Linked DNA regions of Homo sapiens: region 2 is linked to region 1. A link means that fine-mapping ties the variant in region 1 to the expression of a gene that starts in the linked region. Tissue or cell type: whole blood. Region 1 holds a variant in brackets; the other region holds the start of a gene. All regions are shown on one strand. Distances are from middle to middle.

Region 1 (16,205 bases):
GTACAAAATGATGCATGCAGCCTGCTTTGCACGTGTCTGTTTGCACTCAACTCTAAATTCTTACTGTGAAATTACTGACTTAGAAGTGCCCGTATTTACGTTTTGATCTTTCCTAGTACATTGCTTTCTTGGAGAGAGGCTATACTAATTTACAGTCCCACAGGTAGTACACGTTAGGCCAGCGGGTTGGTTGGTTTGTTGGCTTTTAAAAAACAATACAGGCATTTGTAACAAGTAGTAAAGATGTCAGTTGAGTTTTATTTAAGTTTCTATTTTCTTCCTGTGTCCTCTCTCAGGGCATTTAGAACTAAATGAGATAAGATATGTGAAAGCACTTTGTAAAACAAAATTGCTCTAAGAACACAATGTGTTATTAGTCAGAACAGCTCCAGAAGGGAAGGGAAAGGGAGAGCCTTGGGTAATTGTACAATGATGTTCTTATTCTTATATGTATGAAATGCTTTTTGTTGTGAGGACATAGAGATACTTAAGTAATAAAGATGACCCCCAATCACATTGTTTTCATATGTGATCTCAGCCTTGTTTGTGAGGTGGGCTTTGTATATTTACGAAGATCCCTTTGGGCTGTGGCTTGGAAGACTGTTCAGTTAAATACAGCTGGCATTTTTTGGTTGCTTACCATGTTCTGACACTGTGTTGGGAGTTTGAAAATACGACATTGCCCTTGTCTGAGGGGCATTTACAGTTTAGTTGGCAGCAGGGATGTGAAACAATGGGAGGAGAGCACTGGCTTTGGAGTCAGTCTGAAGTTGAGGATCTCTGCTCTGTCATCTTGGGTAGATCACTTCACCTCTCCAGGTCTCAGTTTCTTCATCTTTGAAAGGGGGAGAATTGTGCCTTCATTATTGGCCTCTCAAGGTCATTTTGTGGGAGGCTGAATCAAATGTTAAAGTGTGAAGTGCTTTATGAACTGTGACTATAGCCGGACGTGGTGGCTCACACCTGTAATCCCAGCACTTTGGGAGGCCAAGGCGGGCGGATCACAAGGTCAGGAGTTTGAGGCCAGCCTGACTAACATGGTGAAAACCTGTCTCTACTGAAAATACAAAAATTAGCCAGGTGTGGTGGCAAGCGCCTGTAATCCCAGCTACTTGGGAGGCTGAGGCAGGAGAATTGCTTGAACCCAGGAGGCAGAGGTTGCAGTGAGCCGAGATTGCGCCACTGCACTCCAGCCTGGGCAACAGAGTAAGATCCTGTCTCAAAACAAAACAAAACAGCAGAACACCAACTGTGACTATTTAGACCATGTTATTATAAGTCTTACAGATTCTTGTGGCTGTAATTCTCCAAGTGCAAGATTGAAGAGGAAACTGTTTCTGGGTCATCTGTGCTGATTATAGTATATCCCAGTTGTTCGAGGAAGAGGATAGAAATTCAGATAATAAGGGTGCTTAGCACCTTTCCTTCTCACCAAGGCTTGGTTTTTCTTCCTAACTTATGGAAAAATGCAGTGTGAGTCTCTTTACACCCAGACATATTTTTGGATGGATGGGATTTTTATCTTCCCTCTGCCTTCCCTGGTTTGTGAGGATGAGGGTAGTGTTCACAGTGTGACTAAGAAGCAGCATGACTTTTTTGCATACTTTTGAATGAACTACTTTGCCTGCCTTTTATTCTCCAGGCAAGATGTACCCTTAGAGATGAGGTGGAACCTAACACTTGGTTTTACCTAAATTGCCTCCTTTTCCATTCTTACACTGCCCAGAGCACTAAAGCTCTGTTTGTTCTATTTTCAGCTTGTAATAATGTCTTGATGTTGGAGGATGAAAGAGCTGATGTGAATAGAAGGCATTTAATAAGGAGTCATGGTCTGGAGTCCCAGTCAAATTGGTAGCACATGGTTTTCATCTGCCTTGAAGGGCTTGGTTGCATGGTCTTGCCTTCCCAGAGCTGTGACAGCACCAGGCTGGACCCTATACACAATGCCACATCTCCTTCTCAAACTGATGATTTGGAGTGGCAAATGCCACTGGCTTTGAGAGATGCCAAAAGAATGGTGGACTTGGCTTCTTAATCTTTTGAAGATCATAAAATGTTTGCTAGGGCTCGCTCATCTGCACTTAGGACAGGGGTTAGATGGGTATGTTGGGGAGATGAGGTTATTTTAGTGGGGTTTGGTTAACGTTCAGTTTTAACCACTGTTCAGCCTTCTCACTGGGACTCCTAGCTGGTTACATTTTTTTGATGGGGGTTACTTTTATATATTTATGTATTTATGCCCCTCATTCTAAAAAAGGATTTTAAAGCCACGATGAGCTGTCATTCCAGGAGCAAATAATTTTTACTTAGATCTGACTCAAGTTCACTTTCCAAATGCAAAAAAGGGACAGTCAGATTAAACTGTGGACAGCAGAGTAGTTGTTCATTCATCTCAATGCAGCAGTGTTTGGGCCTGGCAGTGTTTTTGCTTTTGGTTTGAGGTCTTGACCTAAAACTTTAAGTAAAGGCAAGTTTTGCTTAATAGTATTGGTATTGACACTCTGACAGATCTTTTAATCTGAAAGAATTTTAAAGATGCATGAAAGTAATCCCCAGTGATGATTACATCTTCGAGTGGCAGAGATCAGATTTTTATTTAAATACCAATGCAGTTTATCACTTTTTTCCACAGTGCAGGGGGCCAGGGAGGGTCTGGATTTGGGAGGGTCTGGATTTAATAGTGAACTTCTGAACTTGACTTACTTTGAGGGGAGCGATTGGTGGGTGTTACTGCATGATTCAGTGTTCTGTGTCTTTAAAAATGTTTTGAAATACTCATTCTGTATTGTAATCCTCAAAACTACTGTTAGGATTCCAAACCATTGTGGTTTAAACTTAGCTGGAATCTAAAAGGTGGCTGACAGAGGGAAAGGAAACCTCCTTTAAATAAAGAACATATTTGGCTTGCCTAAGTGTCCCAGAGTCTGGGCTCTGGGCATATCTAAGCCATGGGCCAAGTCTCATAGTTGAAGAGGTCGGGAAATACTTGTCTCAAATATAAACACCAGCTCAATATAAACACCATCAATTAGTTCTGCAGAAACTCCTGGTACAAATAAGAACTTGCAAAGCTTCATGTTCAATGGAGTTCTTGTCTGGATGAGATAAGGAGTGCAATACTGCACGCTCTTCTGTACTTGTGATAAATCAAAACTCTAATGATGCTATTAAAATGGGTTTTCTTTTGGCCCTGGTAAGCTGGAAAGCATTGGGAGGTGGGGAGGATAGATTTCACTTGGAAATACCTGAAGCTAAAAAGTGGTGGCTTTTTCTTCTTTCTTCTAAATGTACTCCTTGCTCTAATTAAGCGATGTGATCACTGTCCCAACACTGACATACCCCAGGATGAAACACACTTTCTATTCAAGTAGCCTTTTTTTCCCTTGCCTTCTTCCATGAGACTTGCTGAAATTGTCATGTTATTTCTTTCCAGAATTTATTGGAGCATTAGGCAAAAGCCTCTTGGGAGTATAAATAATGATGATTATAAAGAACAGTCAGTTTACCAAGGAAGGCCATTATCTTTGACTTGCAAAGCTTTTACAGCCAAACATTGTTTGCTTACAGTTCTTTAATACAAATGAAGACCTTAATGGTAAGAAGAGTCCTATTACTACTCCCTTTGTACATGGAGGTCATCCCAATAAAGAAAGGACGATGTCACTTTGCTCAGGCATTAACAGCTTGTTTTTCAGGACAGGCATTATATACGGTCTATGAAGGCCTTGGATGGTGTTTTTTCTTCTTCTTCTTTTTTTTTTTTTTTTTTTTTGAGACGGAGTCTTGCTCTGTGGCCTGGGCTGGAGTGCAGTGGCGCTATCTTGGCTCACTGCAACAACCTCTACCTCCCAGGTTCAAGCGCTTCTCTTGCCTCAGCCTCCCAAGTGGCTGGGACTACAGGCGTGCGCCACGACACCCACCTAAATTTTGTGTTTTTTGTAGAGACAGGGTTTCACCATGTTAGTTTGCCAGGATGGTCTCCATCTCTTGACGTTGTGATCTGCCCGCCTTGGCCTCCCAAAGTGCTGGGATTACAGGCGTGAGCCACCCCGCCCGGCCTGGTGTTTTCTCTTCTAAGGAATGTGGTTTCTGCCATCAGCAGCAAGTAATCCTCCTTGCTGAGTGTTAAAAGATTTCTAAAGTTGATAAGGAATACTGAATTTACTTTTGTACTCCCTACTACGTCCTACTGTATATTGTATACCTTATATACAAATTCAGGGATTTTTTTTTTTTTTTTTGAGATGGAGCCTTGCTCTGTCACCCAGGCTGTAGTGCAGTGGCGCAATCTTGGCTCACCACGACCTCCACCTCCCTGGTTCAAGCAATTCTGCCTCAGCCTCCCAAGTAGCTGGGACTACAGGCGCGCGCCACCATGCCCGGCTAATTTTTTGTATTTTTAGTAGAGGCGGGGTTTCACCGTGCAGGTCAGGCTGGTTTCAAACTCCTGACCTTGTGATCCGCCTGCCTCAACCTCCGAAAGTGCTGGGATTATAGGCGTGAGCCACCGCGCCCGGCCCAGGGGATGGTTTTGACTTTGTCTGAGTAGGCACTGACATGGAAAAGGTATGTATAAATGAAGAATCTCATGCCTTTTTTTTTTTTTTGCCTGTTAATTTTCTTATTTTAAAATTTTTATAGAGGTGGGGTTTCGCTGTGTTTCCTCGGTGGGTCTTAAACTCCTGGCCTCAAGTGATCTTCACCCCAGTTCTTCCAGCCTCTTACACCTACGAATCATTTTCTGTCTTTGTGCTTTTGCTTATTCTGGATATTCCATGTGAATGGAATCATATAATATGTGGACTTTGTGTCTTGTGTCTTTTAAAATTATGTTTCTAAAATTCATGCTGGAGTGTGTATCAGTACTTCATTCCTTTTTGTGGCTGAATAACATTCCATTGTATGGATGTATCATGCTTTGTGTATCCAGTCATCAGCTGATGGACATTTGAGTTGTTTCTATGGTTTGGCTATTTTTTTTTTTTTTTTTTTGAGATGGAGTCTCACTCTAGCCCAGGCTGGAGTGCAGTGGCGCAATCTTGGCTCACTGCAACCTCCACTTCCGGGTCCCTGTTCAAGCAATTCTCTTGCCTCAGCCTTCCGAGTAGCTGGGATTACAGGTGTGCGCCACCACGCCCGGCTAATTTTTGTATTCTTAGTAGAGACGGGGTTTCACCACGATGGCCAGGCTAGTCTTGAACTCATGATCCACCCGCCTCGGCCACCCAAAGTGCTGGGATTTATAGGCGTGAGCCACCGTGCCCGGCCCGTTTGGCTATTTTGAACAATGCTGCGGTGAACGTTTGTGTGGAGGTTTTTGTGTGGATTTGTTTGCATTTCTCTTGGAATACCTTGTTAGAAAAGCGTGCTTATACGTATTACTACTAAATTTATTTTCTGTCATTAAGCTGTGTTTCAGTTCATGCCTCTGAAGTGATGTGCTCTGTTCAGCAGAGTCCTATGCTGTGCCCTCCCCTTCTGGGGCTCTAGCTTGCCCTTTGGAGGGTGTGTGTTTGTGTGTGTGTGTGTGTGTGTGTGTGTGTGTGTGTGTGTGTGTGGTAGGGGTCCTCATTTTCCTTACTGCCTGTCACTCTCCATGTCACTGTGGGTGGCCAAGAGTGGTCTCATTTCCTCTACCCCTTTGCAAACCGTAAACACTGGTCACACGTGCTTGTGCTGGAATCATATGCTCCAGTGGCTTGATGGTGGGACTTCAGATTTCCTGCATTACCTTAGGTTTTGACTTTCTTGTGGTTACCTCTGTCAGCATTCTTTGGCAGAGGACTATGGGGAGTAGAATGACCTAGAAATTATCCCTGATTTTCTTCTCCTTCCAAGCCTGCTGAACCAAAAATGGTTTTTATTTTTCTTTGAAAAACTACCCTTCGTAATGAACTCCATTAAGAAATAGGAGTTCTTCAAAGGAGGAGGGATGTTACTGTATTCTTTTGATTTCTCTGAATTTACTAGATTTATTTTCCCCAAGTTGGTGTGAAATTGTTGAGATTGGTCCTTAACTAGAGTCAGACAATTTTTTTTTTTTTTTTTTTGAGACAGAGTCTCACTTTGTCGCCCAGGCTGGAGTGCAGTGGCGCGATCTCCACTCATTGCAACCTCCGCCTTCCGGATTCAAGTGATTCTCCTGCCTCAGCCTCCAGAGTAGCCAGGATTACAGGCACCCGCCACCACGCCTGGCTAATTTTTGTATTTTTAGTAGATACAGGGTTTCACCTTGTTGGCCAGGCTGGTCTCAAACTCCTGACCTCAGGTGATCTGCCTGCCTCGGCCTCCCAAAATGCTGGGATTACAGGCGTGAGCCACCGTGCCCGGCTGGCAATTTTTATTTTTTAGATACAGGGTGTCGCTGTGTTACCCAAACTGGAGTGCCGTGACGTGAACGCAGCTCACTGCAGCCTTAACCTTCCTGGGCTCAAGCGATCCTCCCACCTCACCCTCCCAAGTAGCTGGGACTAGAGCTGCGCTTCACCATGCCTGGCTAATTTCAGGCAATTTTTAATTGTTAGAAAAACTGTAAGGCAACATAAGAGAAGTGGATGGTGGGGACTGCAAATGTCATGTGGCCTAGTGGTATTGAGAAGCATTTTGTGAAGCAGAGAGTGCGTGTTCCGATTCTGTAGGAGCACATGTCTTGGTGTGGGTGTCTTTGCCTTCCTAGAACTTCCTGATGATAAGAAGCCTGTAAACACCAGTGTGTCCGTCAGTATTTGGAATCTTGTTTATTACATAGTCCTCAGGTTCATTGTCAAAAAATTCTTTACTGATGGTATTAATCAGTATTTGGAATCTTATTTATTTCATAGTGCTCAAGGTCATTGTCAAAAAATTCTTTACTAATGGTATTAATCATGCTTCTCACACTCCAGTTTTTCTGGTATGGTTTTCTGTTCCAAATTGACTCCTGTGCTCAGGTCATTAGTTTGGCTTACTAACAGGAGCCCTGACAGCTATATTCAATATTTTTCTCTGCAGTGGCCAAGTAGCCAAGAATTTACTAGTTTAGACACCCACCTCAGTTTAGAAGGTAGGTGTGAGTGTGTGTGTGTGTGTGTGTGTGTGTGTGAGAGAGAGAGAGATAGAGAGAGAGAGAGAATATCTAAGAAGGAGTTAATATTTTAAACTTTGCATTGTTTAACTGGAAATCTGTGTTCTGCCGGGCCGCTTTTATGTGGTGTACCTATAACCTATACACATACTTGTGCCTTTCAAAGGCTAACGCCACATCCCTCCTACTAAAATTGCTTATTAGAGCTAATTTTAAGAATTGAGTTAGAACTGCCCTATAATGTAATGCAGAATATTTCCCAATAATGCCTAGGTTAACAATGATAGTCTTGCTGTATTGTGCAAAAAAGGCTTCTGTTCAGACCCAGCTGGGTTTCAGGCTTAATTCATTGCTCTATGGTGGGATCACCACAGCTGCTGTGGGGCCTTTACAAATGCAAAAAAGCTGTCAGTGTTTGTTTCATCAGCTGCATAAGTGATGAGGCCAAGTTGAGGAATCCATTCCAGTGCGCAGTGTGCAGGCTGTAGCTATTATTGTTTACAGAATTAGTGTGTTGGAGCTTTAAAATAGTTGGCACATCGTCTGCCCTTTAAAAGCACAAGACTAAGGAATGAGACCAGTTGGTTGTCCTTGTAATGTTGGCCGGATCCAGCCCAGCCCTTGTCTTTTAACAGCTACTGCTCCGGGCTGTGCTGTGGGACTTGACTACTCTTTGGAGGAAGTGGGGGTGCTTGCTGAGTTCTTGTCTCTGTAGTTCTGCATCCCAAACTTAGGTTTGCATTAAAAAAAAAAAAACAAAAAAAAACCACGCAGTCATTTAGAGTTCCATAAGTGTAATTGAGATTTAAAGCCTTAATCATCCTCCCAGCCCCAAATAGGTATAGGACTGTCAGCTGGGATTTCAAATATCTGTGCAGTAACATTCCAGATTTGGCTCTGTGAGATTTATTTTGTGAAGTGATACTGCTTTGGGACTTGCCCTCATCTCTCCCCATGGGTACAGAAGTTAAGGCTACTTCTTGGCTGGCAGCCAAGAAGCCAGGAAAGCCCCATTGGACAGGTCACTTTCCAGGCAATTAAGGAGTATTCTGCAGGGCTCTCCGTGAATGCTGTCTTAACAGTGTAAGGTGACCCTCTTCCCCAGGGACCTGATGAGCCCGGGCAGCATGTTCACTTGCTTTTGGACTGGGCAAGCAGGAATCTGGGACCAGCATCATGGTCATTCACAGGATAGTGTGGGATTGTCCCAGCCCCTCCCTCATTTACATTCAGACCCCTTCTCCACTCAGGGGTCTCTGCCTCATGGAAACTGGAGGGCATGGGCGGTGGCTGGTCTGTTACGGTTTTGAAAGTGGAGCTCATCAGGTCTCCTAGCCAACGGGGGTGAATAATTGTGCTTCCTTCCTCCCAGCTGGAAAAGGTCCCAAAGTGCTCTCTCATATTCATAAAAGAGATGGCACGAGGCTTAGTGTCTCCAAATTAAAGGTCAATACTGATCAGCTTTCTCTCAAAGAACTGTCACATATGCTCTCCTGGAGACATTTGTGTCTTCCCATTTTACCTTAGGAAGTCTCTGGAGCCCAGGAAGACAAGTGTGTCCGATGAATCTCCTGTGGTGTTGGTACTGATTAAGCAGAGTTTGGGGATCCTTGTATGGCCCCTCTTTTAAAGAGCTTTTTAGCACGGTCTCTGCCAAGTATATTTTAACTATTAGTTACAATGATCTTCCAACAGAGAGCAAACAACATAAGTAATAGTTTAGAGTTTTACTTCTTAACGTCTTCCCAAATTCCTTCTCTTTCTCTTTCTTACCTGCACCCTGGAATAGTAGTAATGAAAAGGAAAATAGCAAACCGTGAGCTCCATATCCTCTCCCGCTGGGGGAAGGACTAATTTGCAGGGCCTCATAAGGAAACAGCAGTTTCATGGTCATTGTTGTCAGCCTAGCAGCGCTTGGTTGCACTTCCGTTGCTCAACGTGTTTCTCCTGGCTAGGGTGTTTGTAGTATATTTTGAGTTTTAGGAATCTTTCATCAAAGTTTCTTCTGCTTTTTTGTCATTTTAAGGCAAAACATTTTCTTTTGGTAGCTTGAAAGTTCTACACTCTCAATGTTTAAACATTTTTTGGGGGCAGGGTGAGAAACAGCTTTGTGGACGCATATCTGATTGTGTGTGTTTGTTATTTCATGTCAGAGTCATCTCATGACCCCAGGAGACCTCGCCAGTGGCCTGCCTCCTAGAAAATGCACTGCTGTAATAACAATCAGGGCGCCAGCTGACCACTGGTTGTCCCTCAGCCACTTATTAGCTGCATGTCCAGGAGGATCACCAGGCCGTGGTTTAAATTCTCAGTGTTCTCCATTGTAATGTGGGGTGCAC[G/A]TGCGTCCCTGAGTGGAGATTAGGTGCTCTAATAGGCACAACTGTGCCCCTTTCATTGTAGGCATTCTCTTCCACCTGTATATTAGTATTGCTTCTAGCTGCGTGATCGAGGGTTTGGGTTAATGCTGACATATTGCAACTTACTGGATGGCAAACAGTTAAGTTGTCTTCTTTGGCTGTGGGGAGAGATGGTGAATTCAACACTCTGAAACTCTGAACACAGTGTCCAAAGAGACCCTGGGCTTCCTGGAGTGTTATTCTCTTACTCTCCTAAACTATTCTCCCACTCCCATGAAAAAGAAAATCTTAAAGCGGCTTATCAGTATCTGACATAAGACAGAGTGAGGCCTTTCCTTTTATCTACATAGAGATAGCTCAAAGATCTGCTTGAGGGGCAGCAAAAGGCATGTCAGCAACCACCAGGAAAGGATCCTGAAGCCTAACCAACTGGTTATAAACAGCAGTAGGTGCCCAGGAGGGAACCGATACCTTCTGCAAGAGCATCAGTTGTGAAATGGCCTAGGTACAAGGATGTTCTTAGAATCAGGTTTCAAATTATAGTAACATGTAGACAGACTCTGAATGCTCTGGGAATGGAGTAAGCTGGTTCTAGTGAATTTTCTGGTTGACTGTTTCAAGCCATGGCATTAACTCCTTATGAAGGATATTTTTTGGCTGTCCTGTCTTCAGAAGTCCGGTGTGACGCGCGAACTCAATGGTTGCGTTCCCGAGGACCTTATGGAGTGCTTCCTGTCTGTCTGCCAGTGCTTTGTTACTGTGCACCTCTGTAGATATGCAGTAGGGGGTTTTTGGGTGGTGTGCATGCTGATCCCCAGAGGGTTTATATTTTACCTGCACTCCTGAGGATGTGTTTGTGTTGCTTGGGGCCCTGAGAAAAAACTGCATTCAGCGGAGGATTTAGTAAGAAGAAAGTTGGTTCCATGAAGTGTACATCAGCAGCCCCCGAGGATGCTGTGGGGTTGCAACTCCTAAGGCTTAACTGCGGCGGGGATCGGTTAATAGTATGGACAACCCCACACCCCAGAACAGGGGATAGGTGATGGACGACAGTGGGACACCATACCTAATGTGCATGCCTGCTTCCTAGAAATTGTGATAGTGTGGTGACTCTTTCCTTCTCTGAAAAGACCAAACCCCATCACTTAATATGGAAATTTAAAACCAAACCTCCAAACCCTTCTGACAGCATTTTTGACCAAATTGGCTTTTCGTAAGGGTAGAGCTAGATTTTCCGAAGAGCTTTAAAAACACAGCCTAGAAGCTTATCTTTGTGAACTTTTGCTGTTGTCAACAGTGGATATCTTGCTGCTGCTAATAGAAAACAAAAAAGTTCATTTGCCAAAATGCTTGTCATTTCCTCCTGAGGAGTGCAGCTTAACGCCAGGACTTCATTTAGTCAGAGGGAAATGGTTGCTACCTCCCTGTTAAGCTTCTTTCCATTATCCAGTTATGGCAGAATGAGTGTTGGGGCGGCCTGGGGAGATGGGGGTAAAATAAAGGAACAGCTAAGAAGTGGTTCTGCAGAATGTGTACTTATATCCGAAAGCCTGGATGGAAAGGACGGTGGCTTTGGAAGGGGTGTAAAATGGGAGGGGGTGGCAATCGCTGAAGCATGACAAGCCTCCGAAGGCCTCTGGGACTTGAACACAAAAAAGGGAGCTTTTTGCAGCTCTTTCACATGCACACGTCTCCCTCTGCCCCATCCATCCTCCCCTGCTGTTTTGTAAATCTCCCAGTTGGAAATTTTTAACATGGGAGAGCTTCTTCCTGTGCTTCAGTTGGCAGAATGCTCACACGCAGCTGCAAAGAATTTGCTTTTCCTTTTCACAGCATCTCTCATTTAAAAGCATTAGTGAGACTACAGAACAAAATAAAAACTTCAGGATTTTTCAGAAGTGGAAGCCAAGTTTAATTAAAGTCAAGGAAGTTCGGGGCTCTAACTCTTTTGTTAAACCTCTTAAAGTCAGGCGTGTGCGTGTGCCCATGGCAGGCAAGGTAGGAAATGCCAGTGCCTGTTTCTCGTTAGGAAATTTAAAGGCCTACTTGTCTGGTGTGTGCTTGGGGAATGTCCTAGAATTTATCAAAAGATGTGCTGAACCATCATGTCTTTGGTGGCCTCAAAATGCTTGCCAGTGGTGAGGTAGTTGCCCCTTTCTTGAGGGAGGAGGAAAACCGTTAAATAGCTTTCTGTCTCCTCCCAGGCCTCTGTAAAACCTCCTAATCTGAGTGCCCTGTTCCCTGTGCTCCACCCTTAGTCCCTAGACCAGGCCACTGGGCTGTGAGCATTCTTGTTGGGGGGGGCGGAAAGAAGTTTCTGACTCGATAACTGCCTCCTAAAGTTGGATTTTTAATCTTTCAATAGTATTTGAACCTTCAGCATTTTTTACATTTTATTTTAAGAGACAGGGTCTGTTGCCCAGGCTGGCGTGTGGTGGTGTGATCACAGCTTATTACTGCATCCTTGAACTCTTGGGCTCAAGAGATCCTCCTGCCTTCCCTGCCCCACCCCCTAGTAGCTGGGACCACAGGTGCATGACACCACACTTGGCTAATTTTTAATTTTTTTTTGTAGAGATGGCTATTTTAAAATTTTTTTTTTTTTTTTTTGGTAGAGATGGGGTCTAGCATTGTTTCCCAGGTTGGGTATGAACTCCTAGCCTCAATCATCCCACCTCAGCCTCCCAAAGTGATGGGATTACAGGTGTGAGCCACCTTGCCTGGCCCAGTTTCTTTGTCTAGGAGCCTTTACAAACATTTGCAAAGAATATCCAGGCAGTGTTTATGTATGTCTGCAGTGTTTTTACTGGCTATATAGACCACAGAGTCCAGAAGTGACTTGGATGGGATCCCCAGGAAGGATACTTAGAATTTACTTGACAGACTGAAGATTGGTAAACATGGTCTCAAGTTGAGTTTTGCTGGGAAATTGGTTAGCTTCGCTGCAACCTTGTCATTTCTTTCCTGAGTAATTATATGCAGACATTGGTAGAGGTTTTTTGTTTTTTCATAAAGAATATTAACACAAGGGTTGTATACAAAGGGAACATACTCATTTCTTAGTCTTTCTGTAGATCCTAGCACTTGTAACTGATGAAATGATTTGCCTCAGGGTCGATCCTTCCTTCCTTCCTTCAGTCCGTCCATCTGTCCGTCCGTCCTTCCGTCTTTGATGGACTTTCACTCATGTTGCCCAGGCTGGAGAGCAATGGTGTGATCTTGGCTCACTGCAGCCTCCACCTCCTGGGTTCACGCGATTCTCCTGCCTCAGCCTCCGGAGTAGCTGGGATTACAGGCATTTGCCACCACACCTGGCTAATTTGGTATTTTTAGTAGAGACAGGGTTTCTCCATGTTGGTCAGGCTGGTCCCGAACTCCTGACCTCAGGTGATCCACCCGCCTTGGCCTCCCAAAGTGCTGGGATTACAGGCACGAGCCACTGCACCTGGCCTGCTCAGGGTTTTTCTTGGTCTTCATGTATTTGATCCTATTGGTTAGGTAGCTGCAATCCCTTGCCCTCATTTTACAGGCATAGAATGGGTACTTTATTTAGGAAGGGTTATGATTGCGAGTCATGTCAGGTTACCAGAACTTGAAACTCTACCTTTGGACTTAGCAGTGACTGTGTTATTAAGGTGTTGGCATTTCCTTTAGGTTCTTGCTCTGCCTTGAAAAAGCTGACCAGAGGCCATGCATGGTGGTTTCACCTGTAATCCCAGCACTTTGGGAGGTCAAGGTGGGGAGATCACTTGAGCCTAGGAGTTTGAAACTAGCCTGGGCCACATGGTGAAACCCTGTCTCTACTAAAAATAGAAAAAATTATGGTGGTGCACACCTGTAATCCCAGGTACTTGGGAGGCTGAGGCAGGAGAATGGTATGAACCCAGGAGGCAGAGCTTGCAGTGAGCGGAGATCTTGCCACTGCACTCCAGCCTGGGCAACAGAGCAAGGCTCCCTCTCAAAAAAAAAAAGGAGAGAAAAGAAAAAACTGTGGGACCTTGGGCAAATCCCACACTTTGCTTTCCCACAGTTGTTTTCCTTAGCTGCAAGTATTGTGTGATGGGAACACAGAGTTCCCCTCCAGAATGCTATGATTTTTGTCTTTCAGAAGTTTGTAGCCTTTCATTTTATTTCATTTTAGTTCTACAAATATTTATTGTCTACTTTGTATACTTGTCCGATTGGAGATTGTTTTCTCAGGTGGTAGGGAGGGACATGTGTAGGGGGCATGCAGGATTGGGACCAAGGGAGGTTCAGGAGGGCTTGAGGCCAGTGGGTTCTAATCACACAAGGATCTTGTTAAAATGCAGCTCCTCATTCAGCAGGACTGAAGTGGGGCCTAGGATTCTGCATTCTAACAAACTCTCAGGGCCTACACTTCGTGTAGCAAGACTTTGGGACTGATTTTGTTCTTGGTGCAGTGGTTCGCTTCTTTTTTCTTTTTTAAATCTCACATCTCTGTCCCAACCTGAGCATCGAAGGGTAGGGTTCCCAATAAGATCTCTGCTACCAACAGAAGTTTGAAAACTATTGTTATAGAAGATCCAGGCCTGATGTGGTGGCCCATGCCTGTAATCTCATCACTTTGGGAGGCCAAGGCATGAGGCTTGCTTGAGCCCAGGAGTTCGAGACCAGCCTGGGCAACAATAGTGAGACCTCATCTCACCTTTTTCTGAACCAGCAGGGACTGAAGAGACACTCTCCTACAGTATAAAGATGTTTAAAAACAGTGATGCGGGCCAAGCACAGTGGCTCATGCCTGTAATCCCAGCACTTTGGGAGGCTGAGGCTGGCAGATCACTTGAGGCCAGGAGTTAAAGACAATCCTGGCCAACATGGTGAAACCCCATCTATACTAAAAATATAAAAAGTAGCTGGGCGTGGTGGTGTGTGCCTGTAATCCCAGCTACTCGGGAGGCTGAGGCAGGAGAATCGCCTGAAACTGGGAAGCAGAGGTTGCAGTGAGCTGAGATCATGCCACTGCACTCCAGCCTGGGCGGCAGAGCGAGACTGTCGCCTGTAGTCCCACCTACTCAGGAGAGGTTGAGGCATGAGAATCGCTTGAACCCAGGAAGTGGAGGTTGCAGCGAGCCAGGATCGTGCCATTGCACTCCAGCCTGGGCAACAGAGTTAGACTCTGTCTCAAAAAAACGAAAAAACAGCAGAAAAACAAAAAAACAAAAACAGTGATGCAATTGTAAGGCTTGAGCATTGCTTGAAAATGCATCTTTTGGCCCCGTGGCCCTCTATGTTGTCCTTTCTGAAGACCATTCTTCAGTTTTCATTCTGGAAGGAAGACAGCTAGCTATAATGCGTTGCCTGCATAGTGTTATCATGTACTTCCCAAAGCTTCCATGTCTTGCTTTAGTAGACAAAGAGCAGTGTCAGGAATTTCTGCGTAGAGCTCTTACTGTTTTGCTGGTTTCTATCCTGAACTCACCTTGAAAGCTTATATAGTTTTTAAAAAAGAGAAGTTGTTACTGGATAATAGCTACCATTGATTGAATGTATACCTACCCTAAATGCTTTACACAGACAGCATTTTACGTATTCACTTCTTACCACAACTCTGTGACTTAGCCATTTCCCCCAAATTGCAGCTGTGGAAACAAAGCAGGTAAAGGGGCCAGGGTTGGACCCCCCTACCACTACTTGACCCCAAATCAGGATGTTTCACTTTGGAGCCTGTGTTTGATTTCACTATCCTGGAAGGTGGTATTACCTCAGGTTTATGCAGCCATAGTCCTGGGTTTGAAGCCTGCCTCTGTCACAATCTCTGTGCCTCAGTTTTCTTATCTGTAAAATGGATGTGATAATTATAGTACCTGGGCCACTCAATTTTGCGTGGCACTGGCTATACATTTTATTTGTTGTTATGATTTTGTTTATTATTCTTGCCATAGTCACTAAGTTTATTTTCTTCTCCCTGCTCCCATTGGCTCTTTAAAAATCATTCTCTAAAATGTTAAATTAGCAATCTTAATGATTTTTCTTCCTGGAGTTAGGTTAAGAGGTTATATTTGTGTTTTCTTATCAACCTACAAAATAAAGCCTAGTAAGTTGCCATCTATAGAGAAAGCAGTTAGGGGATTCAGCATATGGCATTTACTAGATTTTGTTGGGTCCTCATTTTTTACGTGCTAAGTTTCCTCATGTGGGTGGGGAGGATGCCTTATGCCTGGAAACATCGCAGTTGCATGTAGTGGTCTCCCCTACCCTTATTTTAAAATACCTGAGTTTTATTTGTGAGCTATTGAATACACTTAGCGGGGCTCTCTGTAAACATACCCTGAATTTAATAGCCAAATGATGTACACATGGGATGTGCACATATAATCTCTTTTCCAATTGTCCCTGCTATATTTTCTTCCTTGACAAACTATAAAACCAAGGGAATGATTTTCAACTAATGGTTGTGTTCTTTAAAAAACTGTTTTTCAGCCAGATGTGGTGGCTCACGCCTGTAATCCCAGGACTTTGGGAGGCCAAGGTGGGTGGATCACCTGAGGTCAGGAGTTCAAGACCAGCCTGACCAACATGGAGAAACCCCATCTCTACTAAAAATACAAAATTAGCTGGGCATGGTGGCGCATGCCTGTAATCCCAGCTACTTGGAAGGCTGAGGCAGAAGAATCGCTTGAACCTGGGACTTGTGGGTTGCGGAGAGCCAAGATTGTGCCATTGCACTCCAGCCTGTGCAACAAGAGCGAAACTCTGTCTCAAAAAACAAACAAACAAGCAAACAAAACAGCTGTTTCTCAGGGTAGTTTTCTTGAAGCACGATT
Region 2 (16,205 bases), 21 kb before region 1:
GTAATCCTAGCATTTCGGGAGGCCAAGGCCGGAGGATTGCTTGAACTCAGGAGTTTCAGGCCACAGGGAGCTATGATTACACAACTACACTCCAGCCTGGGCAACTGAGTGAGACCTTGTCTCAAAAAAGTAAAAAGAAAAAAGAAAAGCAGATTAGTGTCTTGCACTGGGGCAGGTGAAAGAAGGGCAGGAGAAGCCGGGCACGGTGGTTCACACCTGTAATCCCAGCACTTCGGGAGGCTGAGGCGGGCGGATCACCTGAGGTCGAGAGTTCGAGAGTTCGAGACCAGGCTGACCAAAATGGAGAAACCCCGTCTCTACTAAAAATACAAAATTAGCCGGGCATGGTAGCACATGGCTGTAATCCAGCTACTTGGGAAGCTGAGGCAGGAGAATCGGTTGAACCCAGGAGGCGGAGGTTGTGGTGAGCCAAGATTTGGAGCCATTGCGCTCTAGCCTGGGCAACAAGAGTGAAACTCCATCTCAAAAAAAAAAAAAAAAAATAGGCAGGAGAAAGTCAGAGAGCAACTGTTTCCTGAGGCCTGTCCCTGAGACCTAGCAAGCCCAACATTATAACAAGAGATTATAACAAAGGCTATGGGAATAGGCCTGGCGAGGTGGCTGAGACCTGTAATCCTAGCACTTTGGGAGGCCAAGGCCAGTGAATCCCTTGAGCTCGAGCTCAGGAGTTCAAGACCAGGCTGGCCAACATGTAGAAACCTTATCTCTACAAAAAATACAAAAAGTAGCTGGGTGTGATGGCGCACACCTCTAGTCCCAGCTACTTGGGAGGCTGAGGTAGGAGGATCACTTGAGCCTTGGGGGGTGGAGACTAATACACACATAAAATAATATCACACACATAAAATAATATCACAGTCATAATCTATTAGATTTGGAAGAGTGTTAGAGTCCATCTAGGTCAATCCCCTTTTTTCACAAATGAAGAAAATGAGGCATAGTGACATCACAAAAAGCTGAGATGAAACCTCAAGTGTCTAGATTTCCAGTATAATCTTCCCAGTAGCCATATTGTATTAAATAACCACATTGATTTTATAGTTTTCCTCTTTGTATTTGTTTAGAATCATAAATGCCTAAAGTTTTCTAGGTAACATACACTGTTTGAGAACCCTCAATTTCGTAATCGTGTACACATGGACACATAAAAACACTGTCTTTTTTTTTTTTTTTCTTTTTTTGAGACGGAGTTTCGCTCTTGTTGCCCAGGCTGGAGCGCAACGGCACGATCTCGGCTCACCAAAACCTCTGCCTCCCGGGTTCAAGCTGTCCTCCTGCCTCAGCTTCCCAAGTAGCTGGGATTACAGGCATGCGCCAACACGTCCGGCTAATTTTGTATTTTTAAGTAGAGACGGGGTTTCTCCATGTTGGTCAGGTTGGTCTCGAACTCCTGACCTCAGATGATCTGCCTGCTTCGGCCTCCCAAAGTGCTAGGATTATAAGCATAAGCCACCGAGGCTGGCCAAAACACTTTTTTTTTTTGAGACGGAGTCTCACTCTGTTGCCCAGGCTGGAGTGCAGTGGTGTGATCTCAGCTCACTGCAACCTCAGTCTCCTGGGTTCAAGAGATTCTCCTGCCTCAGCCTCCTGAGTAGCTGGGATTACAGGCACATGCCGCCACATCCAGCTACTTTTTGTATTTTTAGTAGAGACGGGGTTTCACCACGTTGGCCAGGATGGTCTCAATCTCCTAACCTCGTGATCCACCCGCCTCGGCCTCCCAAAGTATTGGGATTACAGGCATGAGCCATCGTGCCTGGCCAAAATATTTTTTTTTTAAAATGAATGTTTGACAATTGAGAGAAAGACCAAAAGCAGGAAATTAATAATCCACTAAGTTTCAGTCACAATGTAACTGCCAATGTTTGAATCTTTTCTGTTTCACTCTATGTGTCTGTGTGTAGGATCGGAAAGGGAGATGGCACTGGGTTTCTGTAAGGTGTGAGTGAATCTTGGGTTTTGGAAACACTGAGATTTCAGAAAACAGAATATAAATTGTAGATGTCCCAATTTGGCAAGAGATAAGCTCTGTTTTTGTTTAGAAAATTCTATAGATTCATAGATAAGAAACTATGGGCAAAAGTGTTTGATACGTAGATCAACCAGTATTTAGGCAGGGATCATGTCTGTGAAAACCTTGAAGTGTGCAAGGTGGGGTAAATGAGAGAGTAGCTCTAGACTGAGCTGGACTGGTCTATCATCCAATGAATCTCTAGGATTCTGATGGTGAAAAGGTTATTTTCTCCTTTCCTGCTCACTTCTGTGGCCCTGACAGAGGGAAGAACTAGTAGCTTCTGTGGTAGACTATATATATATATATATATATATTTTTTTTTTTTTTTTTTCTTTTTTGCTCCCTGGAGTGTTTGTCTCCCTCCCCTTTGGATAACAAAATCTGCTCTACCCGCCATGTCCATGGTGGGAAAGGAGTTTTCTTTTTTGTTTTTTGAAACAGTCTCGTTCTGTTGCCCAGGCTGGAGTGCAGTGGCGGGATCTCGGCTCCATGCAACCTCTGTCTCCTGGGCTAAGCGATCCTCCCACCTCAGCCTCCTCAGTAACTGGGATTACAGGCACGTGCCACCATGCCAGGCTAATTTTTGTATTTTTAGTAGAGAGGGGTTTTGCCCTGTTGACCAGGCTGGTGTCGAACTCCTGGGCTCAAGTGATCCGCCCGCCTCGGCCTCCCAAAGTGTTGGGATTACAGGCATGAGCCACTGTGCCTGGCCGCAAAGGAGTTTTCTTTGGCGCTATCATCTCTGCTGGTTGGAGAGGATGACAGAAGAAGGAAATGCTGAGATGAATGGAGAGAAAAAGAGAATGAAGGAATGAAGGAAGGACGATGACATCCTTTGTAGCCCTGAAACTCGGACTCTGGGTTTCCAGATAGGTGAGCCAAGCCCCTCTTCCTTTTTTTCCATAAGCCATTTTCATCTGGGCTCCATTCACCTGCAACTGAAGGCATCCTGATTCATACAGCTCCTCCCCCTTTCCCTGCCTACTCACAGGATCCCTGTAATCCCTATACCTCAGTTTCCTCATACTGATCCCCTGTGGATTAGTTGATCACTGATAAAGTTGATTTTTCCCACCAAACACAGAGTGCAGTATTATTATAAACAGTAACGTCTATTCTTAGGAACTGCAGGTTTCCCGTCTTGGCTGCTTTACCAGAGTTTCTGAATCAGGGCCAGCTCTCTTTCAATAACACAAGACAATCTAAGCAGAATAGTAATGATAGTCCAAAATTTTTACACAATCCAAAGTACCAGCGACTTTCAGTGACTTGTATAAACAAGGTCCACAGACGACCAGTAGGGTTGAAAGCATCATTTTATTGTATTTGGTTTGTGCTGTGGCATTTTATTGAGGCTTGACAAATAAGACTGTAATTTGGGGACAGGAAGCACTGAATAACAAAAAGAACTAATGTCTCCTTGACATCACTCACTCTTAAGAGGGCTGTTTACATCTGAGTTTACCTCCTAGTGTGTTTTAAAATACTCTTGCAAATCTCAGTTGGCTCGAAATAGCTGTTCTATGTTCTTTCAATGGAAGCCCCCACCTTCTGAGTACACTGGTTCATAGTTATTTATAAACCTGATGTCACTCAAATATTATTTTTACATCCCTCTCCTTACTCCCTCACATATGAAGATAGACCTATATAAAATTAGAAACTTCACATAAGGTATTCAGTCACTTAGGTAGGAATTATTGTCAGTCAGCAATCATTTATGAAGCATAAATTCATCATATTGGGTGAAGCATGTCTGTAAAACTGTTCCGTGGTAACCAGCTCTTTCTTCTTCTTTTTTTTTCCTTGGTGTTCTGAGGCAATTTAGGAAAAGCAATGAGGGCTGGGGGCTGGACTTAAAAGGTCTGTTTTTTTAAATTTTTTTATTTTTCGAGACAGAGTCTCGCTCTGTTGCCCAGGTTGGATGGAGTGCATGATCTCGGCTCACTGCAACCTCCACCTCCCAGGTTCAAGCGATTCTCCTGCCTGAGCCTCCTGAGTAGCTGGGATTACAGGCGTGCACCACTATACCCAGCTAATTTTTTGTATTTTTAGTAGAGACGGGGTCTCACCGTCTTGGCCAGGCTGGTCTCGAACTCCTGACTGCATGATCTGCCCGCCTCTGCCTCCCAAAGTGCTGGGATTACAGGTGTGAGCCACCACACCCGGCCCAGCTCTTTCTTTCTTTCTTTTTTGAGACAGAGTTTTGCTCTTGTTGCCCAGGCTGGAGTGCAATGGCAGGATCTCGGCTCACCGCAACCTCCACCTCCCGGATTCAAGCGATTCTCGTGCCTCAGCCTCCAGAGTAGCTGGGATTACAGGCATGTGCCACCACGCCCAGCTAATTTTGTATTTTTAGTAGAGACAGGGTTTCTCCATGTTGGTCAAGCTGGTCTGGAACTCCCAACCTTAGGTGATCCACCCACCTCGGCCTCCCAAATTGCTGGGATTACAGGCGTGAACCACCGTGCCTGGCCAGGTCCAGCTCTTTCTTAAAAAAAGATTTCTGTGATCAAATTAGTTTGTAAAACTACATGCCCCTTTGGGGATTTCTAAAAACCCTACAGTAAAGTAATCGAGTTATCTTTATTATAAGGTAGCAGTCTGCAAATTTATTTCATCGAAGAATTATTTTCTTTTCAGTCCCACCTAGTAACATTTCATGGAATCATATGTCTTGAATCCCATTTTGGAAAACCAGGGAGGTGGCCTGCACTGGGTATGTGGAGCCGAGAGTCCTGAGTTTGACCCTTGGCTCATCCACTCAACTGGTTGTATGACTTTGAGCAAATCACAACCTCTTAATATTTCATTTTCACATTTGAAGAGTGAGGACAGTAATACCTGTCTTGATCTAAGTTGTTTTATGGTTTAAATGAAATTATTATGACAGTGTGCTTTAAACACTATTAAAGTTATACAAATGAAAGCTATCATTAGATAGCTCGGATAAATATGAGGTCTTTTTGGAAATTAATAACATACAAGTGTAAAGAAACTTAACCTAGCAACTTTTACTGAATGATTGTGGATTTGAGTTTACTTAGGGGCCAGCACTGAGGGGGAAAAGCAGCATAATACAAAGGTAAAGGTAGGACTAGAGAATGTTGGGTGTAGAAATGTCTTTGGGAAATAACTGAATTTAACCCTCTAATTTTTAATTTTATGTTTGTAGAGATGGTGTCTGGCTATGTTACCCAGGCTGGTCTTGAGCTCTTGGGCTCAAGCAATCCTTCCGCTTTGGCTTTCCAAAGTGCTAGGATTAGAGGTGTGAACCACCACACCCAGCCTAACCTGCTCATTTTATAAATGACAGACCCAAGGCCTATATGAGGCAGGTGAATGGCATATGGTCACTCAGAGACTTAATATTAGAAACATCTGATTCCCTCATTGCCAATGGCTGCCTCAATATGAGACAAATCATGGCCCCATCCAATTTTCAATTAAGAGATACAAGATACTTACATGACATAATCAGAAAAAAATACAACAGAGAACAATTTTTTTTTGTTTGTTTTTGACAGGGTCTTTCTCTGTCACCCAGGTTGGAGTGTAATGGTGCAATGTCAGCTCACTGCAACCTCAGCCTCCCGCTCAAGCCATCCTCCCACCTAAGCCTCCCAAGTAACTGGGACTACAGGTGCACACTACCATGCCTGGGCCACCACGTCCAGCTAATTTTTTTTTTTTTTTTGGTAGAGATAGGGTTTCACCATGTTACCCAGGCTGGTCTCAAACTCCAGAGCTCAAGTGATCCTTTTGCCTCGGCCTTCCAAAGTGCTGGGATTACAGATGTGAGTCACCACATTCGGCCTCAGAATAAAATTTTAAAGCTCAAAAATTATTGCCAAAATAGGAAGGGCAATGAGAATCCAGGAATGAGTAGGCCAAGCAGCGAGGCTGGATTGGAAATGGGCCTGAATTTGGGGCCTTGAAGAACGTATAACACTACATTGGATTTAGATAATGCAAGAGGAAAACTAGCAGAGTTCCAGAATGGAATGGAAGATGATGGTAGGAGACTAAATGTTGGGCAATAGTCTAAATAGTTGGGCATTATAGTTTTGGTGAAATATTCAACAGTAAGCATTTACTGGACATCTTTCAAATTTGATGAAGTTTTTGGAGCTTTGGAGGGTATGAGAAGTAGACAACATCATCTCTTTAGGGAATTTCCTTTTTACTTGGAGAGAAGAACTAGAAACATTAAAAGTGGAGAATGTAAACAAATAGGATGCAATGCAAAGGGGTGAAATATGCACTTCTTTAAGTATGTATGTGAACCCCTACACCTACTTCAAAACTCCTTAACACCTAGTCATCTCAGCAATGTGTTCTTTTTAGCTTCTTTTCTACATTGCTGATATAGTACTTTTTGGAGGTATCACAATCCATTGTAAACTCTGCCTTTTTTTTTTTTTTTTTTTTACTGAGCTGTGAGCTTCCTGTGTCCTCAGGGATGAGGACAGTGCTGGCATAGAGTCTAATACAATCAATGTACCTAGACATGTTCTCATCCCTGCCCCTCCAATTGAAGAGGTCAAGGCTTTGAGATGTGAAAATCATCATAAGAAAAGCTGCATTTGACTTACAGAAAATGAAAAAGAGGAGGAAGGAGCAAGAAAAGCCTTGGATGGTCTTGCCAAGATGGTAGGGGAAGGAAGTTCATTAGGAGTAGGTTACTTTCACAACAGGAAAATCTTTCAACCACTAAGAAGGCCAACCTTTTTTCTCTTTCAGGGAAAACAACACTAATATTATTCAAATCTTTTGGAAATGAGCAAATTCCTTCCTTTCCCCTCTGCCCTGAGGCCTCAACTTTACACAATAGTTTTTCACACCAGGTGACCTGGAGCTGGTAGCCTGGCAGGGGAGTTCGCAAGCCCAGGACTGAGAAGTCCAGGCCCCAGGGCTAGTTAGGGGAACAGAAAAGAAACTCACCTTTGTTCATTAATATTTGCCTAGGGAATGAGGTATCTGCGTTAAACTTACAGAAAGCTGGTTAAAATCTTAACAACGTGGAGACGTGGAGATTCCCAGTATGCCAGTCCTAATGATCAGAAAGTTTTTAGAAAACACCTTGGGTGGCCCTACTGTAGTCTGCCCCATTGGATCCTTCCCAGGAAATGGCACCAGCGTACAAGTTTTGCAGTATTCAGGGCACAAAAGATCATTTATTTTTCCAATTGTGAAGTGAACATTAGATAAAATTATTTCATTTCAGATTTTTTGAAAAGGTAAAAATAATAAGGAAAATACCCTCTCGAAAAGGCTTTTTATTTCGTTTACTGAAAGCTTCCAATAACGTGCCTAGTTTTAAACTAGGTTACTGTTATTTATCACATAATCATCCCCACAGGTTTGATCACCACTAATTTGCAGATGCGGAAACTGACAAGCTCAGAGAGGCTCTCGGTTGCCTTTTGGGAAGTGGCCAAGGCGCGATTTGAATCCAGGTCTCTTACCTCCAGTTTCTGAGACCTTTCTAGACACCAAGGTTATCTCTTCAAATACTGCTGCAAGTAAACAGCTGTGTGAGTATCTAGACTTTTGAAGTTAGCAGACTCTAGGGAATAGGTAGAATAAAATATATGGGTATGTGTTCGCGGGAGCGCTTCTGCCACGTTTTATTCCGAGGCTAGCCTGAGAGATCATGGAAAACATTGCTTCTCCAAAACCACAGCGAAAAACAAGGAAATTAACAAGGCAGAATCGCGATGCGAGACTTGACAAAGTTGTTAATAAGGCGAAGGCCCAAAGCGCTATGCCAGGGCCTGCTACTTCATTTGTTTCAGCGATTAAACCAGCACGACAGGGGGCTGGAGGCAGGTAAAAAGCAGGCTCTTGCGTGGCCCGGACAGTTGATATTCCTGGCACTCGGTGTTCGAGATGTTTCCTTACAATTGCGTGTCTGTGCGGCTCGGTCTCCATATTCCACTCATTTTTGTCTCAACATTTTGTGGTATTTTATCACAAAATACGCCCGGCAAAGCAAAGATCCCGTTCAGTCTCTTTAAACACGGCTATCTTTTCTCAGGAGGCAGCCGCCGGGGCTTCACTCCTGGGCCACCAGCGACGTCCTCCAAGCGGGTCGAGCGGAGGCGCGTTCGCGACCCAGGGGCAGCGTGCCGAGCCCGGGCGTGGGGGGGCGTGGCCTTTCCACTCGGCGACCCCCGGCCACCGCCCACCCCGCGCGTGGGGGCGTGCGCGACTGCGGGGCGCGGAGAGGGGTGACCTCGGACTACCCTAGGCGCCCGCAGCACGCTCTGTACACAGACGCGAGGCGCTGTCCTGAGGTGACACCGGCTGCACGGCACAAGCAGCAGGCGCCGCCGATCAACTAGTTCGCACCGAGGATTCCTCTTGGTGCGTGGCCCAGTTTTCCTTAGGACGGGCTCCAACCCCTCCCTGACACCGCCCCCCTCACCGCCACGCTCCGAGGCCTTCCCCGGGGAAGCCTCGCGTCCCTCCCCCGCGGCTCCGGGCCGCACGCGCGCGATTCCTCGATTCCACAGGCGGTTCGCGCCGCGGGTGGGGGCGGGGCGCGCGGGGAGGGGGCTGGCGGCCGCCAGGGGAGGGGGGCCGGGGCCCGGGGGGCGGAGGAGGGCCGGCGTGGGGAGTTCCTCGCTCGCGGACCACACGCTCCGCGGGCCAATCCCGAGCCAGCCTCTAGCAGTGTCGCACGCGGGACACGTCCAAGCGTTTGTTGGCACGGCCAGTGAGGGGGAGGGGGCGAGGAGGAGGGAGGGGAGTTGAGTGACAGGCTTTGCGGGGCAGGCTGGGAATTGTAGTTCCCAGCTTCCGTGGCCATAGCCATTTTGTAGTCGGGGGACTACAACTTCCAGAAGATCAAGGGGACCATTCTAAGGTGCCCCGGGAATAGGCGGCTCTCCCCGGGGCCGGGCGTCCTGGGGCACTCCTACCCAGCAGCCCGGCTGCAGGTAGACGCGAAGGCAGTGGCGGGGGCTGGCGTGGGGCGGCCGTGGGGTGAGCGGCAGGCAGGGGAAAGGGGGTGAGGTGGAGCGACGGAGCGTGCCATGCATTGAGCTAGGGAGCCTCTCTCAATTCCACGCCTGGGCTCGGCGTGGGAGCGACGCCCGAGGGCTTGCCTGGGAGGGGTTCGTCGAGGTCGCTCGGGTGTCTGGTTGGCCAGGCTGCGGGGGTGCCCTGGACTGGGCCAGGGGCGGTCGGCACCAGGCTAAGCGGGCGCCTGGCGGCTGAGCGGTGGGAGTTTTCGGCTGGCGCCCGGCGGGGAATTATCCGAGGAGCCCTAACTTGTATAAAAGCAGAGTCCATTTAAAGTTGGGCTGGATAGCCTCTCTCTCATTGGTTAGGGGGCTTGGAAAAAAGAGACTCGGCGAGCCCTCGCTGTGGTGCTGCCGCCGCCGCCGCCGCCGCCGCTGGAGTTGACTCTTCTGCTCGCACTGCTGCTGCAGCACAAACGTGACTTCCAACATTTTTTATTTATCTTTCCCTTTTCTTTTCCAAGATGTAACTACGGATCAGACACTAAGGACCTTCACGTTTCGCTGATGTAGTTTTTGGAGGAAAAAGGGGGGGGAGTGAAGGGCGTCGGTTTTTTTTTGTGTGTGTGTGTATGTGTTTCGGGGGAAATTTTCCATTATGAGTGTTTTACTAAAGTGAATTTTTTTTTGTTTGCTTCGTTCGTCTTTGGCTCTTTTTTTTTCCTTCCCAATTTCGGATTTATTTCAAGGCGAATCTGGCTTTGGGGGAAGAGGAAGAAAAGTCGGATTACAAGATCAACCACCACCAACAACAATAAAAACCACCAGGATATTTTTTTGCAAATTTCTGACGGCTTTAAATTCATGAAGCAATTGTCCCCTTTTGCAATCAGCATTTGGATCTCAGAATGAGCAAGGAAAGACCCAAGAGGAATATCATTCAGAAGAAATACGTAAGTGCTCCTAACAACACATCCTTTGACTTGCAGTTTTAAGCAATGGCTGTGAATGTCAAGTTTATAGATAATTCTGCCTCTGAAGGGTTTTAAACACAGCGTCCGATAAGGCTGTTTCTTTTTTTTCTGAAAGAGGGCTTTTCAAGCAAAGTGGTGTCTGCCTAGTTTGGTTGAAAAAACAGACTGGTGTAGAGATACCTCAAGTGAATAAATTGACCTCGAATGACACAACCATAATCTACTTTTAGATGAAAGGCAAGGGATTTTGGTGGAGCTTGAGGTGGGGGGTGGCTGCGGTAATGTAACTAAACTGCATTCTCAAGCGGATTTGGCCCCGTATTGCACTTTGCATGCAAATGAGCCTGTGTTATTATTATTAATGTTATTTGGAAAAATCGTGTAACGCATGTGTGTTGGAAGCCCTTTAAGTTGCGATCGAGGGTCCGATTATGGCGATCTTCTCTTTGCACTGGCACATCAAATTTAATGTCTGTGGTCGTTTTGGCTTATCTGGTTTGCAACATAAACCAGTTGGGAATCATGTTACAGCGAATGCATTTGTTGGGATTGACTTTAATAATGAGGCTGGTTTTGTTTAAAAAATTCATGGTTTCCAGTTGTAGGGGAAAAGGACACACACTATGGCTAATGTTTTTAAGTGTGTACGTGAATGCATATGTAAGTAACTACAAATAATTTCTCCCTGTTAACTGGGCTTCTGAAATTGGGTGATTATTCCTAGATTTAAATGGCTTGGAATAGTTAAATTTGTTTTGTGCATAGTACAGCTACGTTTTGATTGGCATGGGGAGTGTTTTTGTTTTGTGTGTGGTGGCTTTTTTTTTTTTTTAAGTTTGAGGGGAGGGAGGAAAGGGGGACCGAGGGATTAACCAAATATGCACTCGAGTGATCTGTGATTAGCTGCATGCTTTAAATTAAATAACTCTTTTTTTTTTTCAAAAAAGGCCAAATGAACATACCTTAGGAATAATGCAACGTAAGAGGAAAGTTTATTTAAGTTGGGTAGACAAATTGGTGTTAATATTTTCCCTTTTTGATCATTGTGGTGTGTGTAATGAGAGATGACCTTCGGGGCACTGGTTTTGTAAAAAAATATATTTAATGGAAAAGCTGAATGCCTCTTCAAGAGAGCTGATCCTTATCTAGACACGTCAACTTCAACTATGAAAGAAATGCAAGGTTAAATAATCAAGCCCAACTTAGAAAGCTGTTCCATAAAGAATTTAAGAATTAAAATACATCCGCATTGCAGAGGGCTGGGTAGAATGCAAAGGACTAGTTTAAACTCGGGCTGTAGAAACTGCACTGAGGCAACCTTGTCTTGGAGCGTGGACGCCTTCCCGGGGCACGTCCGTTTCGGATGCAGCCACAAAGCAAATGGGGTAGAACTTGGACGAGAACCGCACCCCGCCTCCCATTCCGGACCTCGTTGAGGTGGAGAGCAGCGTGGGGTGGGTTTTCTTTCTTATTGCGGGCGTTCAGCGGATCGTGTCTCCGAGTCCGGGCGTCCGGCTGCAAGCCCGTGGCTGGCGGCGGCTGCGGGAGGCACGGCACGAGTTAATGCACCGGGAGCAGAGCCGGTGTTCCCGACGTCCTCGAGCCGGCTGCGAAAGGGACGGCCCGCGGGGGTCGCGGCAGGCTGGGCCGGGGCTGGGCGGGCGGGCGCGCGCGCGCGGCCTATAGGGGGCATACTCCGGGCTCTAGGCGGGCGCGCGAGGCGGGCACCGGTCTACCCGGGCCGGCTTGCAGGCGGGCAGGAGGGCGGGTGGGGCGCGGGGGTGGCGCGGCCTGCGGGGCGCGGGGAGGGGAGAGCGCGCGGGGAGGGGGTGGGAGCGGGGGCGGGGGCGTGGGCGTGCCGGGGAGGGGGCGCGCGGCGCACAGCTGCAGCGGGCGCCCCCCACCGCGCACACGGCCGAGCATGGCGGCGGCGGCCCGGCCGGCTTCCCGCGGCCCTGCCTGCGGGCTCCGACGCAGTCTCGAGAGCAACAGGTTAAGCCGGCGAGACGTCAGCGCGCCCCCTCTCCGCCCCCCGGTTCTTCCCCCGCCGCGCGCCGGCGCCCCAGCCCTTCTTCCCTCCCTCCGCCCCCCGCGGCGCTCGGTTCCCCGACGCTCCCGGCCGCACTCTGTTGTCATTGTGACGTCACAAAGGGACGGGCTCGGGTGGAACCTTCCCCTCCTCCTCCGTGACGTCAAAAGTCGGGCGGGAGGCTCCAGGCGCGGCGGGGCGGCGGGGGGAGGAGGGAGCTGGGCGGGGGCGGGGGCTGCCGCAGAGCCGGGCTGCGGCGTGGGAGGAGGAAGAGGAGGAAGATGCGCTCGGCCTCTGCCTTCCGCTCCGGAGCGTCGCGCTTCCCACCAGGTGAGGGCCGGGGAGCCGTAGGTCCCCAAAGGAGTGCCACTGGACCCTGTTCTGATGCCACTTGGGAAGCGGGGAGCGGGGAGGAGGCGCCTCCTTTCTGCAGGAATGTTTTCACTTCCTCTGTTCCAGGTCTCCTGATGGTGTTGCATTACTAGCGTGGTGCATGTGTCCCCTCTCCAGTGCTTATGTAAAGAAATGAAAGTATTCAGGGAAAGCTGTGCTTTGTTGGAGGACCGCGTTGTGGATTTGGCCACCTTGTCACTTGAAGTCGTGTTAGGGGTGCTTCAGCAGGATGTGGCCGGATGCCTTTCATGATGATGCTGCACAGCAGCAACTGTTGCTCTTTCTGGAAGCTTTGTGGTACTACGGTGGGGGGGCTTTCCTTTGCTGTGCCGGCTCTGTACCTACTGACTGTTATTTTGGGGGGCTGGACCAAAGGAAGACTTGTCATTGATAAATGTACTGAGAAGAGCACAGGACTCCTTTAAGTCTCAAGGTGCTCTGGGCTTAGTTCTTCTGAGCAGGGAAACCAGAGGCTGGCGTTCTGTTTTCTCTTTTGTAAAATGGAAAAATACCTGCCATTGCCACTTAACTAAGTCACTGAAAAGATCATGTGCATGGAAGATGTAAAACAGTATGCCTCTTTATAAGTAAGGTGGCATTATTACTTGAGCTGGTGGAAGGCAGCACGTTTCCCACAATTGGTCTCAAAAGCCCGGGATGCCTGCTGAGTTGCCATTTAGTTTATTACCTTAGCAAAGCAGAGTTGGGGGTGCGATTGTCGATAGTAGGCTTTGGGAGAAATGATTGTTATATTTCGTAATAAATGATGTCCTTGAGAAACTCATAAGTTGCAGTGTAATCCTGTCTTAATTGTGTTGAGCACGACTCCCACTGCAATACCTTAAATAACTGAAAACATTTGCCTTTGAAAGCCCCAATCGACTTGGACAATAAAAACAGTTGCATGTTTTGCTCTAGAGATATTTTCTGCCGTTTCCATCATTCCACTGCCTGGTTATTCCTAGGGAGAATAACAGATAGGATACTGGGGCTTCACCACTATTTGATCAGGTATCAGTTTGAAATAGAGAATCTCTGCCTTATGAAGATAGTAATTCCTGTAGTTAGCATGAAAACAAATTGCCAGTTTGATTTTCTAGGACAGCTCAAGCAGAATTTGTACCACTAGGCTGTAAGTTTTAAGTATCTAATTTTCTGATTTGAAAGTGTATGATTTAAAAATTGGAAAAAGTTTTTGTTATAAGCTTCAAAAGGATTTACTATAATTACAACTACGTAAAATTACAAAGAAAAAAGTAGGAAGAACACAAAATATACAGTGGTTGGATTTATGAGGTTTTTTGTTTTAAAACTTATTCATCACAAATTGTTCAGTCACGTTATTTTACAGTTGGTGGGGTGGTGGGGAAATTTGCACGTTATTTTATTGCTGTATTTTTTCTTTCCTGGGATGTTTACGTGGCTTTTCAGTTACTTGTTTCTAGTAGTGGAAAATCTTGCTCTGTGTTACTTAGGTGCAGGGCAGTGGCAGTTTAGCTCCTATCACTGTACAGGGACAGTATGGAAGGAAGACACAATGAAGTCCAAAGTGTCACTAAAATTTGAAAGAAAAATTATGTCGACAAGTAATCCAACTTGGTTTATTATCCAGGTTATATTATTTTACAGTAGGCTAATACCTAACTTGTGTGTCCCTGTAGCCACTGGCCCAAATAGACAACTAGAATTATTTGGTACTCGGTAATGCCTGTTTCCTCATAGTGGGTTAAACCAGTCCCTGTTGCTGGGCTGAAGGCTATTGACGCACTTCCAAGTGCCTTGGAAATAACTCCAGTGTTAATATATACCGTACTCCAAATGTTAAACTTTCCTCCTTCAGAACAAGACAATCTTTTGGAGTATATAATTGGTGTCTGTTACCTTCAAAATGGAACTTTTTTTTTTTTTTCAGAGAAGACACGAGAATGTCATATTAAAAGCGTAGTTCGTTAAAACACTTGGTGAAGGCTAACCTAGAGAGCATTTGTTTTTTTGTTTCCTTTTTTTTTTGAGACAGGGTCTTGCTCAGCCACCCAGGCTGGAACGCAGTGGTTCCTCACTGCAACCACTGTCTTCCGGGTTCAATCGATTCTCCTGTCTCAGCCTCCCGAGTAGGTGGGATTACAGGCACCCCCTATCATGTCCGGCTAATTTTTGTATTTTAGTAGAGATGGAGTTTCATTTCACCATATTGGCCTAGCTGGTCTTGAACTCCTGACCTCAGGTGATCTGCCCGCCTTGGCCTCCCAAAGTGCTGGGATTACAGGCGTGAGCCACTGCACCCAGCCAGCTGAACATTTTTAAGCTAGTGGTTTGCCCTTGCTCATGATGGTGTGAGGACTCACACTCCTGACATTGTCTGAATTCTGGCTGCATTGCTCTGATCATCCTGATGTTACTGGTCCACGTCTCCCCCAGGATTACAGTAGTAGCAGCTCTACTAACCACCTTTTGTCTACCCATCCTGCTTGCCCTGTTGGCTGCAGTATGTCCTGACTGATATCCCAGGATACAGGTCCTGGCCACCTCTGGGATGTACCTCTGTCCCCTTTGGCTTTCACCCAGAAGTCTTGCCAAGTGTCAGTTGTTTGTTCCCAAATCTGGTTATTCCAGTTGGGCTTATTATTGTAATTACAGTTAAGTATTATGTCAACCTTGAAACAGTGTGAAAAAGAGCGTGGTGGCTCATGCCTGTAATCCCAGCACTTTGGGAGGCTGAGGTGGGCGGATCATGAGGGTCAGGAGTTCAAGCCCAGCCTGACCAACATGGTGAAACCCCGTCTCTACTAAAAATACAAAAATTACCCGGGCATGGTGGCGCATGCCTGTAATCCCAGCTACTCGGGAGGCTGAGGCAGCAGAATTACTTGAACCCAGGAGGCGGAGGTTGCGGTGAGCCGCTTGAACCTGGGAGGCGGAGGTTGCAGTGAGCCGCTTGAACCTGGGAGGCGGAGGTTGCAGTGAGCTGAGATCCTGCCACTGCGTTCCAGCCTGGGCAAAAGAGTGAGACTCCATTCAAAAAAAAATGTGGGCCAGACATTTTTAAGATGTTTGGGAAAATCTGAAAGGACTGTCCACACACATTGCTTTGCAAGTGATTCCCTTTTAAGAACCAAACTTCAGTTATGCCCAGACTTCCCCAACAATCAAAACAGCATAATGTAGAACAACAGAACGTTCAGAGACTTAAGCTCAGAAAGAAGACCCATGGCCTCATATCAAAAAAACCGTAATTAAAAGTAGATTTGTCTGTCAGTTAATACAAAATGTTAGGGAATACCTTTTTTTTTTAAAAATTGTTTGTTATCTAACAAACTTGTTCCCATTAACTAACCAACTTCTGGTTCTTGTCATCTCTGATAAGAGTGCTTCCAACTGTGTTTAGCCTTAATCCCCGCATGCTAAACTGGACTCCCTGTCTGCTTCATGCCATGTAACATGTAAAGTGTGGATCAGTTTAAAGTAGTCCTACTGAGGTGATTGTATTACTTTTGGAGTTAAAATAATTGTGCCATTTACTGAGTGGCAGGGAGCAGAAAGATTAGTAATTTTGCACCTAATTCATGGAGTTCAGAAGCTTCTATCTTGTAATCTGGCAACTTTAATTATATATTGTTTTACTTATGAGATATTGTGGAAGGTCTGTTCCATTTTAAATCCTTAAGCCTTACCTGTTAATAAAAATGAAACCAAATGAATCTGTTTTTTCATGTGCTCAATTATCTTTCGTTTTTTTTCCGTCCTCCAGATAACTGTACTCTTTATATCCTGTGACTCCCTAAGACAAGCCTCAATTGCTTTTCCAG

Evidence for each region. PIP is the estimated chance that this variant, and not a neighbour inherited with it, causes the effect.
Region 2: JARID2-DT starts here. The variant in region 1 is fine-mapped to the expression of JARID2-DT in whole blood (INTERVAL, PIP 0.92).

What each region holds. Positions count from the first base shown.
Region 1 is chr6:15,257,561-15,273,765 of GRCh38, forward strand. All of the region lies in intron 1 of JARID2 (jumonji and AT-rich interaction domain containing 2), which reads left to right. Among named protein-coding and RNA genes, the nearest start is that of JARID2-AS1, 17 kb to the left of the region's middle. RefSeq lists enhancers at 7,158-7,667, 7,673-7,812, 9,807-10,365, 10,366-10,923, 10,924-11,482 and 1 more. The variant G/A (reference allele first, on the strand shown) is at 9,403.
Region 2 is chr6:15,236,629-15,252,833 of GRCh38, forward strand. JARID2-DT (JARID2 divergent transcript) reads right to left here and starts at 8,746. Exons shown (of 1, transcript NR_187237.1): 1 at 7,295-8,746. It overlaps JARID2 (jumonji and AT-rich interaction domain containing 2), which reads left to right and starts at 9,441. Exons shown (of 18, transcript NM_004973.4): 1 at 9,441-9,956. The coding sequence starts at 9,912. It overlaps JARID2-AS1 (JARID2 antisense RNA 1), which reads right to left and starts at 12,068. Exons shown (of 2, transcript NR_120502.1): 1 at 11,882-12,068; 2 at 11,187-11,516. RefSeq lists enhancers at 2,199-2,699, 2,700-3,200, 7,556-8,069, 9,259-9,308, 9,419-9,518 and 2 more and silencers at 8,069-8,378, 8,389-8,648, 11,634-11,693, 11,814-12,293.